4 linked regions of the Homo sapiens genome follow. The protein of the gene in region 3 interacts with the protein of the main gene of each other region in a biochemical or structural test. Each region holds a gene or a part of one and is shown on either strand. Other genes may lie near its edges.

What was found. Proteins that work in one complex are often made in the same cells at the same time.
Region 1: the proteins of UBE2D2 (region 3) and RNF38 form a complex in vitro, tested with the Homo sapiens proteins (3 studies listed by BioGRID).
Region 2: the proteins of UBE2D2 (region 3) and AMFR form a complex in vitro, tested with the Homo sapiens proteins (3 studies listed by BioGRID).
Region 4: the proteins of UBE2D2 (region 3) and SIAH1 form a complex in vitro, tested with the Homo sapiens proteins (3 studies listed by BioGRID).

Annotation. Positions count from the first base shown.
Region 1 is NC_000009.12:36,369,270-36,372,769, forward strand, and holds part of RNF38 (E3 ubiquitin-protein ligase RNF38), read right to left. Parts: intron 664-3,500; coding exon 450-663; intron 1-449. UniProt on the Homo sapiens protein: Acts as an E3 ubiquitin-protein ligase able to ubiquitinate p53/TP53 which promotes its relocalization to discrete foci associated with PML nuclear bodies. Exhibits preference for UBE2D2 as a E2 enzyme.
Region 2 is NC_000016.10:56,408,546-56,412,045, forward strand, and holds part of AMFR (E3 ubiquitin-protein ligase AMFR), read right to left. Parts: intron 1,044-3,500; coding exon 879-1,043; intron 1-878. UniProt on the Homo sapiens protein: E3 ubiquitin-protein ligase that mediates the polyubiquitination of lysine and cysteine residues on target proteins, such as CD3D, CYP3A4, CFTR, INSIG1, SOAT2/ACAT2 and APOB for proteasomal degradation.
Region 3 is NC_000005.10:139,616,839-139,620,338, reverse strand, and holds part of UBE2D2 (ubiquitin-conjugating enzyme E2 D2), read right to left. Parts: intron 1-3,500.
Region 4 is NC_000016.10:48,375,414-48,378,913, reverse strand, and holds part of SIAH1 (E3 ubiquitin-protein ligase SIAH1), read left to right. Parts: intron 1-3,500. UniProt on the Homo sapiens protein: E3 ubiquitin-protein ligase that mediates ubiquitination and subsequent proteasomal degradation of target proteins.

The sequences.
Region 1 (3,500 bases), on a different chromosome or scaffold from region 3:
CGTTCTGCCACCCAGTGCAGTGGTGCGATCTTGACTCACTGCAACCTCCACCTCCTGAGTTCAAGTGATTCTTCTGCATCAACTGGGATCATAAACATGTACCACCACATCCAGCTAATTTTCGTACTTTTAGTAGAGACGGGGTTTCACTGTGTTAGGCTTGTCTCGAATGCCTAAGCTCAAGTGATGTGCCTGCCTCAGCCTCCCAAAGTGCTGGGATTACAGGCATGAGCCACCGTGCTGGGCCGATACTAATTTTTTAAGTTCAACTTTCTTCTATGGAAGCTGTGTAGAATTTAAATCTCAATTCTTAAAAGGAATGAGGAACTTAAATAACTTCATTTTAGGTAAAAACTAAAAGAAATTTGCAACAAAAAGCCAAAAAAAAAAAATCTCAAACTGCCACAAAATTTCAGCTTCTGTATTTCCAAGACATTCTGTTATTGTACCTGATCATGTATGTCAACCATGACTGCATTCTGCTGGGGTGGATGAGCAGCAGGATGTAGCAGACGGGGAGATACATTCGGAGGGTGGAAGGCTCGAGGCTCCTCTATTGCTTGCTGCTGTGCGTAAGGGAGATGGTGATAGTTTTCATCTTGACTAATGGAATTATGTCGAGACAGACGATCCCTTCTTCCTCTCTGGCGCCTGACAGGAGGACTGTGATAAATATCAAAAAGAAAGTCATTATGCTTATTGTGATCCATCAGGATTCTGTATTGTCTTTCTTTGATATCTATCAATAGTATATGCTAAGGTAAGCTTCATTATTAAATAACTGCTAAAATTCCCCATCAGCTCTAAAAACTTACAAATTTAAATACAAGGTATATGTTTTATACAATAATGAAAGCAAACAGTATTGGTATTCATCTCTGAAAGTATTTAGAAATCAACAGCTACAATTTTTTCTTGAATCATATGAAATTGCCCTTTTTATAAGTGAAAAATAGTCTAATAGCAACAATTTCATATAATTTAACCTACCATTTTCTCCCTTTTTAAATATTATAATAAAACGAACTTTAATCTGTAGATACCTTGTCAGTGTTCCTCATATACCTAATAGGCACCTTTTTGTCTATTTAGCTAACACATACATAAGACATAGTTCCTATGTGGCCAAAATGACACTTTTAAAAAATGAGAAAACATGAAATAACCAAAGAACATATAATTTGCTGACAACCGCAAATAGAAACTGGGTAAACACGCGATGAATATGATTGAGAATATGATAGTATCAACATAAATATTCCAAGAATATATAAAATTTTTAACTTTTAATTTTTATGGGTGCACACAAGGTATATATACTTACATAGAATTTTAAATTAGAATTTGCTTGTTGGGCCAGGTGCAGTGGCTCATGCCTGTAATCCTAGCACTTTGGGAAGCTGAGGCAGGTGGATCCCTTGAGCCCAGGAGTTCGAGACCAGACTGGGAAACATGGTGAAACCCTGTTTCTACCCCAAAATACAAAAAATTAGCCGGGCGTGGTGGTGTGCACCTATAGTCCCAGCTACCTGGGAGGCTGAAGTGGGAGAATCACCTAAAGCCTGGAAGGCCGAGGCTGTAGTGAGCTGAGATCACGCCACTGCACTCCAGCCTGGGCGACAGAGTGAGACCATGTCTTAAAAAAAAAAGAGAGGGAGAGAATTTGCTTATTGAAGCAACCCACATTTACTCTCCATGTACTAGTCATCGACATAGTTTAATAAAAATTTTATTGTGACTAAACTTTCATTTTGTTCTTCTCTGAAACTGCTTTTTACAATGGCTCAGCACAAAAGCAACTTGAAAAAGTACTCTGCCTCATTAAAACTGTACTCTACATTGGGCAAAGGAGGTCAAACATCTCCCTTCTAGGAAGAACTCCAAGTGTCATTTTAGCAACTTTCTTTATGGTCACTTTTTCCTTAATCTTCCCACTCTGTTCCTCTAAATCTGTTTCTTCTTACTCCTAATTCTCCAATCTTAAGAGAACAAGGGACATTCCTTTATGAGATCAACTCGCAAAGGTGCTCTTGATATTGTCCCTCCAGCTTCTTGCTCCATTAATTGTTTCTTCTAACTTTATTTTTAATACAATCCTTTTTGCATTTTTGCTTCAAACTCTACTTACTGTATTATATTGAATTCAAGACGCCCTCCACCTTAGGACTAAAAGCTTTTTTTTTTTTTTTTTTGAGACGGTGTTTCACTCTTGTCACCCAGGCTGGAGTGCAATGGCACGATCTCTCGGCTCACTGCGACCTCTGCCTCCCAGGTTCAAACGATTCTCCTGCCTCAACCTCCCAAGTAGCTGGGATTACAGATGTCCACCACCAAGCCCAGTTAATTTTTTTTTTGTATTTTTAGTAAAAACAGAGTTTCACCATGTTGGCCAAGCTGGTCTCGAACTCCTGACCTCAGGTGATCTGCCTGCCTCAGCCTCCCAGAGTACTGGGATTATAGGTGGGAGCCACTGCACCTGGCCTACATTATTTCTTTTAAATTTTTCTCGTATTGCCTTCTTCTGGAAATATTAGACATTTAGAACTTATGACTCTGTGTTCATACTTAAATTTACTTTTCCACATTTTTTATTTTGCCCCGTTACACTACATTCTGGGAAATTTCCTCCACTTGATCTTCCAGAATGAACTCACTTTTTCTTTTCTTTTTTTTTTTTTTGAGACAGAGTCTCGCCCTGTCTGCCAGGCTGGAGTGCAGTGGCCCGATCTCGGCTCACTACAACCTCTGCCTCCTGGGTTCAAGCGATTCTCCTGCCTCAGCCTCCCGAGTAGCTGGGACTACAGGCGTCTGCCACCTTGCCTGGCTGATTTTTGTATTTTTAGTAGAAACAGGGTTTCACCATATTGGCCAGGCTGGTCTTGAACTCCCGACCTTGTGATCCGCCCACCTCAGCCTCCCAAAGTGCTGGGATTACAGGCGTGAGCCACCGCGCCCAGCTGAATGAACTCACTTTTTCTATTTATTAAGTTTTACCAGCTAACATTTCTAGTTGATTTTCATGAGTACAATATCCCTCATCCCTCTCCCTCTTACATCTCACATGTACTCTAAAATTCGATCTTGCTTGTTCTATTGTTTCTTGAAGTTTATTGTTAATTGAGTTTAATGGCCCTGTTTATTCACAGTTCTTTGTTTTATTGCATTTATTAATAGTATCCCTCTTTCACTTCATTCGTTTTTTTCAAATACCTAGCTTTGTGCTCACCTCTGTAACTGAAATCCTGCTAGATTATTGTTAAAAACTGCATCTGCTTGGCACAGCCTGTTTCTGGGAGAAAATCTGGCAATATGCTTATAGGTAACCTATATTAAGTAGTAAACAAGAACAGAATACAGAGTAAGACACACTGCTGAAAAAAACACTAGGAGAGCCAGTTTTCAGGGTGGTAAATACTCTCTACTACTCTTTTGTCTTGCTATGAACGAGGACCATGATGCTTTTCAAAGAACTCAAAGCTAATTACTATTATCATCATCTG
Region 2 (3,500 bases), on a different chromosome or scaffold from region 3:
AAATGCAATCCAGGCACAGGTTTACCACTACTACAACGTGATGTCAGCATTATGCAAGGAGAGGCAACAGTCTGAAAAGAAGGCCTAGAGCTGCAACTCCTGAGGTCACAGGCGGAGATTAAAAAAAACAGTTTGGGAGGTTAGAAGCTCCTGTTTGTGACTTCAAATGAGGGTTGAATGTGAAAGAAATAAAGGCTGTGAGAGTGAGATTAACTCAAACCAAGGTGCAAGGTCCATGTGGACTGGGTAAAGACAGGGAAAAACAAGGCCCTGGAGCGGGTTTAACTGAGGGGCAGCACTGTAGATGCACATTTATCTGGGACTCATGAGACTACTTCAGGTCACTAATGGGTTGAAGGTTCACTCATACAGCTATGATCTGAAACCAAGTGACAGATCTTGTACCAGACATAAAATGATTCACTTCGCAAACAAGGAAGCTGAGGGAGCTAATTCAGTCCTGGCCCGGGGTGGAAATAGTATAAACTACTCAGAAAGAAGAGCTCCACGAACCAGAGTAAGCTGGGAGAGACAGAAGGAGACTAGAACAGAAAATATCTAGAAAAGACCAGATTTTATTGTTTATGTATCAAGGTTTCCTTGCACTGTGAACAAAACAGTCTGCATAGGTGAAGTGACCCCATGTTAGCAGTAAGTAAACACTATGGGGTTGGGAAGAAAGCTCCCCAGGAGACAACGATTCTGCATCTCTTGGCTGCTGTAGAAAGTTCTTCAAGAAACAGGCAATGGGGGCCTGATCTAGAAGTCTTCCCAGAAGAGCTACCCTGACCATGCCTGCTGTGGCTCATTCACATTACACAATTCAAAGTTGGCAAACGTGGTGACTAAGCAAGCAAAAAGCTTGGCTAAAAACTCACATATTCAAATCGATCCTTGCAGAGCTGAACCATCAGGTGCAGAAAGACAAGTCCGGCAAACCAGAGGCACCACATGACCACCTCTTCCACTGTCTGGACATTCAGCACACCAAAGATGAAAATGAACTTGTAGAAAATAAAATTCCAAAATTTGTCTTTGAGATGCTAAAAAAGAAAAATGTTTATGAAGGTGAGTACCATCACACCTACCCCATTTGAGGGAAGTTACCATAACAAAAGCCGGCTTCTATGGAAGATATATTCTGCACTTGGCTTTCTAATACTTGTCCTCAAGAAAACAGAAAAAAAAAAAAAAAAAAAAAAAGCAGCCATCTGAAGAATGGAGGTAAGACACCCAGAAACTAATCTGTAAACTTTGGACTATAACCCTAAATCAATTATGGAATGTTAGCTATTCAAAGGATAGCGATATTAGTTTAGTAACTTATATATTAAGAAATAGGCCAGGCGCAGTGGCTCATATCTGTAACCCCAGCACTTTTGGAGGCTGAGGTGGGTAGACAGCTTGAGCTCAAGAGTTTGAGATGAGCCTCGGTAACATGGGGAAACCCCATCTCTACCAAAAAAAAAAATACAAAAATTAGCTGGGAATGGTGGTGCACACCTGTAGTCCCACCTACTCAGGAGGCTAAGGTGGGAGGATTGCTTGAGCCCAGGAGGTCAAGGCTACAGTGAGCCATCATCATGCCACTGCACTCCAGCCTGGGTGACAGAGCAAGACCTTCTCTCAAAAAAAAGAAAAAAATGCTTACATTTTTAATGCACAATGAAAAAGAATGGCAAGGGCTATCATTTTTACTACTTCTACCTTCCAGATTCTTACACAATAGAAAAGATTAGACTTTGTAAAAAAAATTCTTCAAATTAAAAAATAACACAACACAACCACTTGCCAGCCCATAATAAAGGCGGCATAAAAAGTACAAAGAAAATGAAAAATGCTGCCTTAACATTTTTATGAATTTTCTTGTCTTTTCCCTATGTACAAAACACATTACTTTTTGTACAATGCTTTCTTTCACCTATTGTATTGTTAGAACCTTAACAATGTCAATGAATATTCTCTGAATATACCAATATACCGTTTCAATGGCTAAAGATGGACACTGAAACTGTTTTAAAATTTTCACCACGCAAAAAAAACATTATAATGAGGGCCGGGCGTGGTGGCTCATGCACGAAATCCCAGCATTTTGGGTGGCCAGGGCAGGCGGATCACTTGAGCCCAGGAGTTCGAGACCAGCCTGGGTAACATGGCAAAATCCTGTCTCTACTAAAAATACAAAAATTAGCTGAGCATGGTGGCACAAGCCTGTAATCCCAGCTACTTGGGAGGCTGAGGCATTAGAATTGCTTGAACCTGGGAGGTCGAGGTTGCAGGGAGCCATGATCATGCCACTGCACTCCAGCCTGGGCAACAGAGCAAGACTCTGTCTCAAAAAAAAAAAAAAATTGTGATGAATATTTTTGTATGTATCTTTGTATGAGTTACTTCAGCACTGTCAAATCAAAAATTGCAAAGATTTTTATGGTTTATAGTAAAATCTACCTAACTTCCAAAGCAGTCCTGTAAGTGTACATTCCCATGGGCAGTGTGTATGCATATTTGCTTCACTGTACTCTTTTACACAGAGGGCTTCCAGTTTTAACAATCTTCACTAACCCTGAAATAGGAGAGCAATAAGGAGGGTCTAGTTCCCCCACATGTTAAAATAGACTATCAAGCCGTCTAGGGGGGTCAGGGAGAACTGACTGAAGAGGATAAGAATGGAAGCATGATTCTAAGTATACTTTTTTTTTTTTTTTTAAAGAGACAGAGTCTCACTCTGTCATCCTGGCTGGAGTGCAGTGGCCCAGTAGTAGCTCACTGCAGCCCCAAACTCCTGCGCTCAAGCGATCCTCCCACCTCAGCCTTCTGAGTAGCTGGGATTACAGGCACATGACATCATGCCCGGCTAATGTTTTTTATATTTATATTTTGCAGAGATGGGGCCTCCCTCTGTTGCTAAGGCTGGTCGCAAACTCCTGGGCTCAAGTGATCCCACCTTGGTCTCCCAAAAGAATGCTTTTATATGTAATTTGGAACCATGTAAATGTTTCACAAATTCAAAAAATAAACACAAAAAAGCAAAATATACTACAAATTAACAACGTGACTCCTTAAAGATTTTGAGAACTTAAACACACTGTACTCTGACCAGATATCTTTTGTAGAGAACAAAATAAAGTGGAAAAAAATCATAGAGTATGCCCTAATTCTATCCATCAAAAGGGCAGAGACACCCTAGTGGTAATGAGCACACTCAGCCAGTATACAGCTTGGCTTCTAAATATCATTGCCCAATAACGTGAACTAGGAATCGTTGGTGAAATGTCTGTTTCCAGACCTGGTGCAGGGAAAGTACAAGGTGAACTTAGGACATTTTGTGCCCTGGTTTTGAATGACACTGCCACTTGGCTCTGCCATTTAGTTTCTGTGTGACCTTGGGAAAGTCACTTAACATCCCTGTGCTTTAGTTTCCTCATCCATACAATAGGTCTTATAATAACAGCATATACCTCATAGAATTGTTGGGGGAATTATACATAATATATGTGAAA
Region 3 (3,500 bases):
GCTTTTCTTTCTTTCCAGGAAAGGAGAGTACTGGCTATCTGGACCTTGTGAAAAGATTTTTAGTACACTACTTAGCTTCTTGATTTCATGAAGAATTCATTTTGGTTTCTAATATACTGATATGGTTTGGATCTGTGTCCCCACACAAATCTCATGTTCAACTGTAATCCCCAACGTTGGAGGTGGGGCCTGGTGGGAGGCGACTGGATTATGGGGGTGTATCCTTCATGAATGGTTTAGCACGACCCCTTTGGTGCTGTTCTTGTGATAGAGTTCTCATGAGATCTGGCTGTTTAACAGTGTGTGGCACCTCCCCCATCTCTCTCTTGGTCCTGCTACTGCCATGTGAGACAGGTGGCTCCCCCTTTGCCTTCTGCCATGAGTAAAAGCTCCCGAGGACTCCGCAGAAGCAGATGCTGCCATGCTTTCTGTATAGCCCACAGAACTGTGAGCCAATTAAACCTCCTTTTTTTTTGAGACGGAGTTTCACTCTTGTTGCCCAGGCTGGAGTGCAATGGCGCGATCCCAGCTTCCTGCAACCTCCGCCTCCCGGGTTCAAGCGATTCTCCCGCCTCAGCCTCCCAAGTAGCTGGGATTACAGGCATGCACCACCAAGCCAGGCTAATTTTTGTATTTTTGGTAGAGATGGGGTTTCTCCATGTTGGTCAGGCTGGTCTCAAACTCCCGACCTCAGTGATCTGCGCATCTCGGCCTCCCAAAGTGCTGGGATTACAAGAGTGAGCCACCGCACCTGGCAAAACCCTTTTCTTTATAAATTATCCAGTCTCAGGTATTTCTTTATAGCAGTGCAAGAATGGACTGATACATATACTATACCTTCTTCTGTAAAGATAGTAACTCTTATTTCTATAACCTGTATAGTCTCTTCACTGAACTTTTACCTATATATATTCTTCATCAGTATTACTTTTTTTTTTTTTTTGAGACAGACTCTTGCTCTGTTGCCCAGGCTGGAGCACAGTGGTGTGATGTTGGCTCACTGCAACCTCTCCCTCCCAGGTTCAAGTGATTCTTGTGCCTCAGCCTCCCGAGTAGTTGGGACTATAGACACACACCACCCTGCCCTGCTAATTTTTGTATTATTGGTAGAAATCAGGTTTCACTATGTTGGCCAGGCTGTTCTTAAACTCCTGACCTCAAGTGATCCACCTTCCTTGGCCTCTCAAAGTGGATTACAGTCATGAGCCACTGCGCCTGGCCAGTATTACTTTTTCACTAGTGTTACAGCAACAGTTACTTTCACTTCTAAAAACATATAATCAAATGGCTTTATGGCACACTTATCTGCTTCCCTTCAGTTTTTTTCAGTGTTTTTGTTTTTGTTTTTTAAATATTTAGGTCCCCATCACGGACCTTCAAAGTAGAGTGAATACTGGGTCAAAATTTCTGTCCTTGAAGACAGACTATATGTTAAAGGAATAATATCATATACAGGATTAAGGCATTTCATAGAACTACTTGCCCATACATTCAATTTACAAAAAGGGACTCATTAAAACCTTAAATCTGAGACAGTTAATACAATCAAATTCAACAAAATGGCACTGCAACTATTTTAAAGGATAGCTATCCAGATAGAGAGAACCTAACAAATCAGACTTGTAACAGTCCTTATCATTTGGAATAGCTGAAAAAAAATCAACGCTAGGCAAGGGGAAGAACAAAAAGAGGTATGGCAATAATTTCAGCTATCTTGTGTCTCCAACACCTCACCCCACCAAACACACACCTCTCACACAATTCTACTTATCTTGGTCCCATTACTAGATTTACATCTCTATTGCTATTTGGTGAAGGAAGTGCAACCAATGGGACCCTCACCAGGCCAGGCACAGGTCCACAAACACTTTCTCAAGTAGCTCTTGAATTGTAAGGGGGCCTACCAAAAGAAAAGGGGACACTTCTCTAAAAAACTATTTCATTAAAGTTGTAATAACTTTAAAAAAATGTGGTTCTCTGGCATCCTGTTTTTATTTCTGCCTGGGACTCCAAAAATTTTAAATTAATGTCTCAGAGTTTTGTTTGCTTTAAAAAATTAATTTGTGGCCAGGAGCAGTGGCTCACACCTGTAATCCCAGCACTTTGGGAGGCTGAGGCGGGCGGATCACCTGAGGTTGGGAGTTCGAGACCAGCCTGACCAACATGGAGAAACTCCGTCTCTACTAAAAATACAAAATTATCTGGGCGTGGTGGTACATGCCCTATAATCCCAGCTGCTCAGAAGGCTGAGGCAGGAGAATGGCTTGAACCCGGGAGGTGGAGGTTGTGGTGAGCCGAGATTGCGCCACTGCACTCCAGCCTGGGCAACAAAAGTGAAACTCCTTCTCAAAAAAAAACAAATAATAATAATAATAATTTTTTTTTAAGATTGAGTCTTGACATCCAAGTGATAACATGACAAATACCCAACACTTTTGACAACTGTGCCTTTATCCCCAGTTTTTGGAGTACTTACAAGGAACCAGTTAACTGTCTGTTTTTGCTTCTTTAATCTTCGTAACAACAATGAAATATGTATTATTGTTCCTTTTCTACAGATGAAAAAACTGAGGAATACAGGGGCCAATGTGTCTCTAGCCTCATTTAATAAGAGGTGGATCTGAGATCTGAACACAGGCAATTGGATCTAGAATCTATGTTCTTTACCATGAAACTATGTTGCTTCCTGTCTAAATACATGCATTAAACAAATGGTAAATTATAAGCAGATAATTTCTACTTAATGGTTCAAATGGTAAATTATAAGCAGATAATTTCTACTAAAAATACAAAAATTAGCCAGGCGTGGTGGTGGGTGCCTGTAATCCCAGCTACTTGGGAGGCTGAGGCAGGAGAATTGCTTGAACCCGGGAGGCGGAGGTTGCAGTCAGTCAAGATCACACCATTGCACTCCAGCCTGGGCAACAAGAGCGAAACTCCCTCTCAAAAAAAAAAAAAAAAAAAAAAATCACACACCACATTTCACCACACAAATACCAAAACTAACATTGCTTGTCTATTTCTGGACACTCAACATACTTTTATATGTAACTCTTGTTACAGTGTATATGCCTTTTTTCTTTTTTCTGCTTTTCTCAAGCACAGTATTTTCCTATTTTCACAATATTTGTAAAGATCAATACTTTTTTTTTTTTGGAGACAAAGTCTCCCTCTGTCACCCAGGCTAGAGTGCAATGGTACCATCTTGACTCACTGCAACCTCCGTCTCCCGGGTTCAAGTGATTCTCCCGCCTCAGCCTCCTGAGTAGTTGGGACTACAGGCACGCACCATCACACCTGGCTAATTTTTTGTATTTTTAGTAAAGATGGGGTTTTGCCATGTTGGCCAAGCTGGTCTCGAACTCCTGGTCTCAAGTCATCTGCCCATCTCAGCCTCATAAAGTTCTGGGATTACAGGCATGAACCACTATGCCTGGCCAGGGTCAATACTCTTTTAAATGCATGTGCTGGAACCGATCTATTTTTTCCTCTACTGTAAG
Region 4 (3,500 bases), on a different chromosome or scaffold from region 3:
GGAAGGGAGACCTGGTGTCCAAGGATAAGGAGCTCGCCCTTTGAAGGGGGAAGGAGTACATCTTAGATGGAAGATGCAGCCAGATAAAGGCCCCATGAAGTAGGGATGAATTTGGACTGCTCTAGGACCTGAGGAGTGTTGCTGGAGCAAATGGGTAGTAGAGAGAGACAGGTTGAAGAACTGTGCAGAGGGAAAGAGAGGAGAGATGCTGTGAAGTGTTAGCTGATATTAGCATCTGGCTGTTGTTCAAGGAGATTCTAGGAGAATACCTAGAGCAATATTAGGACTTTTATTTTCTAAATGTAAACTATTTTGTTGACATTTAGCCTAAATACATATGGAAAAAGTGCTCAAATCATGTGTACAGCTTGACATTTTCACAAAAGGAACGCTATTGTAACCACCTCCCAGATCGAAGAAACAAGGAGCCGCCCCCTTCACAGGAAACCACCTCTTGACTTTTTACACCATAGATTTATTTTGCCTAATTTTGTGCCTTATATGAATGGAACAGTAGAGTTTGTACTCTTTCATTCTTTTGTTGTTGTTGTTGTTGTTTTGTGACAAAGTTTCACTCTTGTTGCCCAGGCTGGAGTGCAATGGCACAGTCTTGGCTCACGGCAACCTCCACCTCCCGGGTTCAAGCGATTCTCCTGCCTCAGCCTCTCGAGTAGCTGGGATTACAGGCATGCACCACCACACTTGGCTAATTTTTTGTGTTTTTAGTAGAGATGGGGTTTCTCCATGTTGGTCAGGCTGGTCTTGAACTCCCAACCTCAGGTGATCTGCCTGCCTTGGCCTCCCAAAGTGCTAGGATTACAGGCGTGAGCCACTGCGCCCGGCCTGTACTCTTTCATTTCTGTTTGGCTTCTTTCACTCAACATTATGTTTTTTTGTGTGATTAAGGAGTATTATTTGCTTATCCATGACAAAGTTACCAGCTGAATAGCCATGTGTCCCAGTACTTCTTATTTTATTTTATTATAATTTTTATTTTTATTAGAGACGAGATCTCACTATGTTGTCCAGGCTGGTCTCAAACTCAAAGGCTTTAGCAATCCTGCCGCCTCGGCCTCCCAGATTGTTGGGATTACAGGTGTGAGCTGCCACACCTGGCCCTTCTTTTGTTTTTTAAGTCTTATTCTTTTCCCTGACCATCTCAAATACTTTCTGACCAGTATTTCTAGAACGATTTTTTTTTTCCTTAAATCTTCAGGAGGCTCAGCGTGGCGGCTCACGCCTGTAATCCCAGCACTTTGGGGAGGCCGAGGCTGGTGGATCACTTGAGGTCAGGAGTTCAAGACTAGCCTGGCCAACATGGTGAAGCCCTGTCCTTGTCTCTACTAAAAATAAAAAAATTAGCTGGGCATGGTGTCATCCCCCTGTAATTCCAGCTACTCGGAGGCTGAGGCAGGAGAATCACTTAACCCGGGAGGTGTAGGTTGCAGTGAGCCGAGATGGTGCCACTGCACCCAGCCTGGGCAACAGAACAAGACTCTGTCTCAAAAAAAAAAAAAAAAAAAGTCTTCCAGAACTTTAGGTTTAATGTTACAGACAAGATATGACCAGAATAAAGCTGGCAGAAACCTTCCATTAGGTTTGTGGTTGCCCAGTCATGTTTGAACTGACTTGTTTTTTTTGTTTTGTTTTGTTTTTGGTTTTTTTTGCTTATTCGTTTTTGTTTTGAACAGGGAGTCCGGGCACATGGAATAAACTAGAAAGAGAAAAACCTTTGGAGAACTAATTATATTTATAAAACAGATCTTGCCAGTGAGAAATATTTTCTTAAGGAGTTTAATGCCAGTCTTGAATTTTGTAGAAAATATTTCAGCGTACTTGGTATAGTTATTTATTAGTGTCACATCGACCACCTTGGTCTAGTGATGGTTGATACAGTAAATATAAGTGTATACTAGCTTCTCTGCAAAGACTCTACCTTGGAAAGATTACTTCAATAATTTATTTGACAAAATGAAGTAATCCTCTCCCTGTTAAAAACTTCTTCCTGGTTTCCTTCCTTTGTATTTCACATTAAATTTTGCCCTTTTGAATTTGGCCAGAACTCAGGCTTGTTGGGTAAGGTAGCTTTACTTCTAAAAACTTGTCAAGGGCCCTGATTTAGCTTTATTAGAACAACTTCGGATATCTTGTCTATACAGACGTTAGTTAATTTTTGCAGACTGTATTCTTTTGAGTTTGTGAGGGGAGGGGGGCTATCATAAATTTTGTTAACTTTTAAAATGTTTAAGATATTTTCAGCCGGGTGTAGTGCCGGGCGCCAGTAATCCCAGCTACTTGGGAGGCTGAGACGGGAGAATTGCTTGAACCTGGGAGGTGGAGGTTGCAGTGAGCTGAGATTGCACCACTGCACTCCAGCCTGGGCGACAGAGCGAGACTCTGTCTCAAGAAAAAATAAATAAGATTTTTTTTTATAGTATAAAATAAAATGTCTACAAAATATGTAGTTTTTTGTGAATAGGCTGGTTTTAAGTTTCCTGTAAGTATCCATCTATTTGAGGAATTTTGAGAAAAAAAGTGAAAGCAAGGAGAAAATCAGCTCTTGAATTCTGTATTTGATGTTCTGTAGAAGTTACTAGCAATTCATTAACAGAAAATGTGGAGATATGATAAAATGTGCATTAAAATTTTTAAGTGTAATATTTTTTGTTGCCAATAATTTTATGAAACATTGGAGAGATACCGAAATCCCTCCTCACCCCCAAACTATTATTTATAATCTGATTACTAAAAAGTAACCATCATAGACATTTTGGTGTAGTCTGGGTGTGCTTCACATTTTTTTGTTTTACTCAGCCAAAGATATTTTAAAGTTAGTTTCTTTGATCTGACCTAAATTCTTGTAGTTCTCATGATTATCATCTCTAAGAACTATATATGTTTGAACTGTGTACTGTAATTTCAAACGATGGAATTTGTGCCGACAGTCTCTGTTTCTTGGAGTTCTTGATGCTTTGTGTGCCTGTAGTTCAGTGGTCCCATCTCTCTCTGGTTTCTAATTCCAGGCTTGCTCTCCCTTTGTCTGATCCTGCATCTTAAACCATTAAACTACATTCTGCAGTTTGGATGTCCTTCCAGTTTCTTTTCTGTTTCATTACATGCTACATACATGCATACATACATGAAAATATATACATCAATGTGCATATCTATTATACTTACCTATTTTTTTCTTTTAACCTAAATGAAATTGTAATCTGTATATTCTGTAGCTTTTTTTCTCCCCCCAATTTGTTTTTTGTTTTTTGTTTTTTTTTGAGACGGAGTCTCGCTCTGTCGCCCGGGCTGGAGTGCAGTTGGCCTGATCTCATCTCACTATACCCTCTAACTCCTGCGTTCAAGCAATTCTCTTGCCTCAGCCTCCCTAGTAGCTGGGATTACAGGTGCCCACCACCATGCCTGGATAATTTTTGTATTTTTAGTAGAAACAGTTTCACCATGTTGGCCAGGCTGGTCTCCAACTCCTGACCTCAAGTGATCCA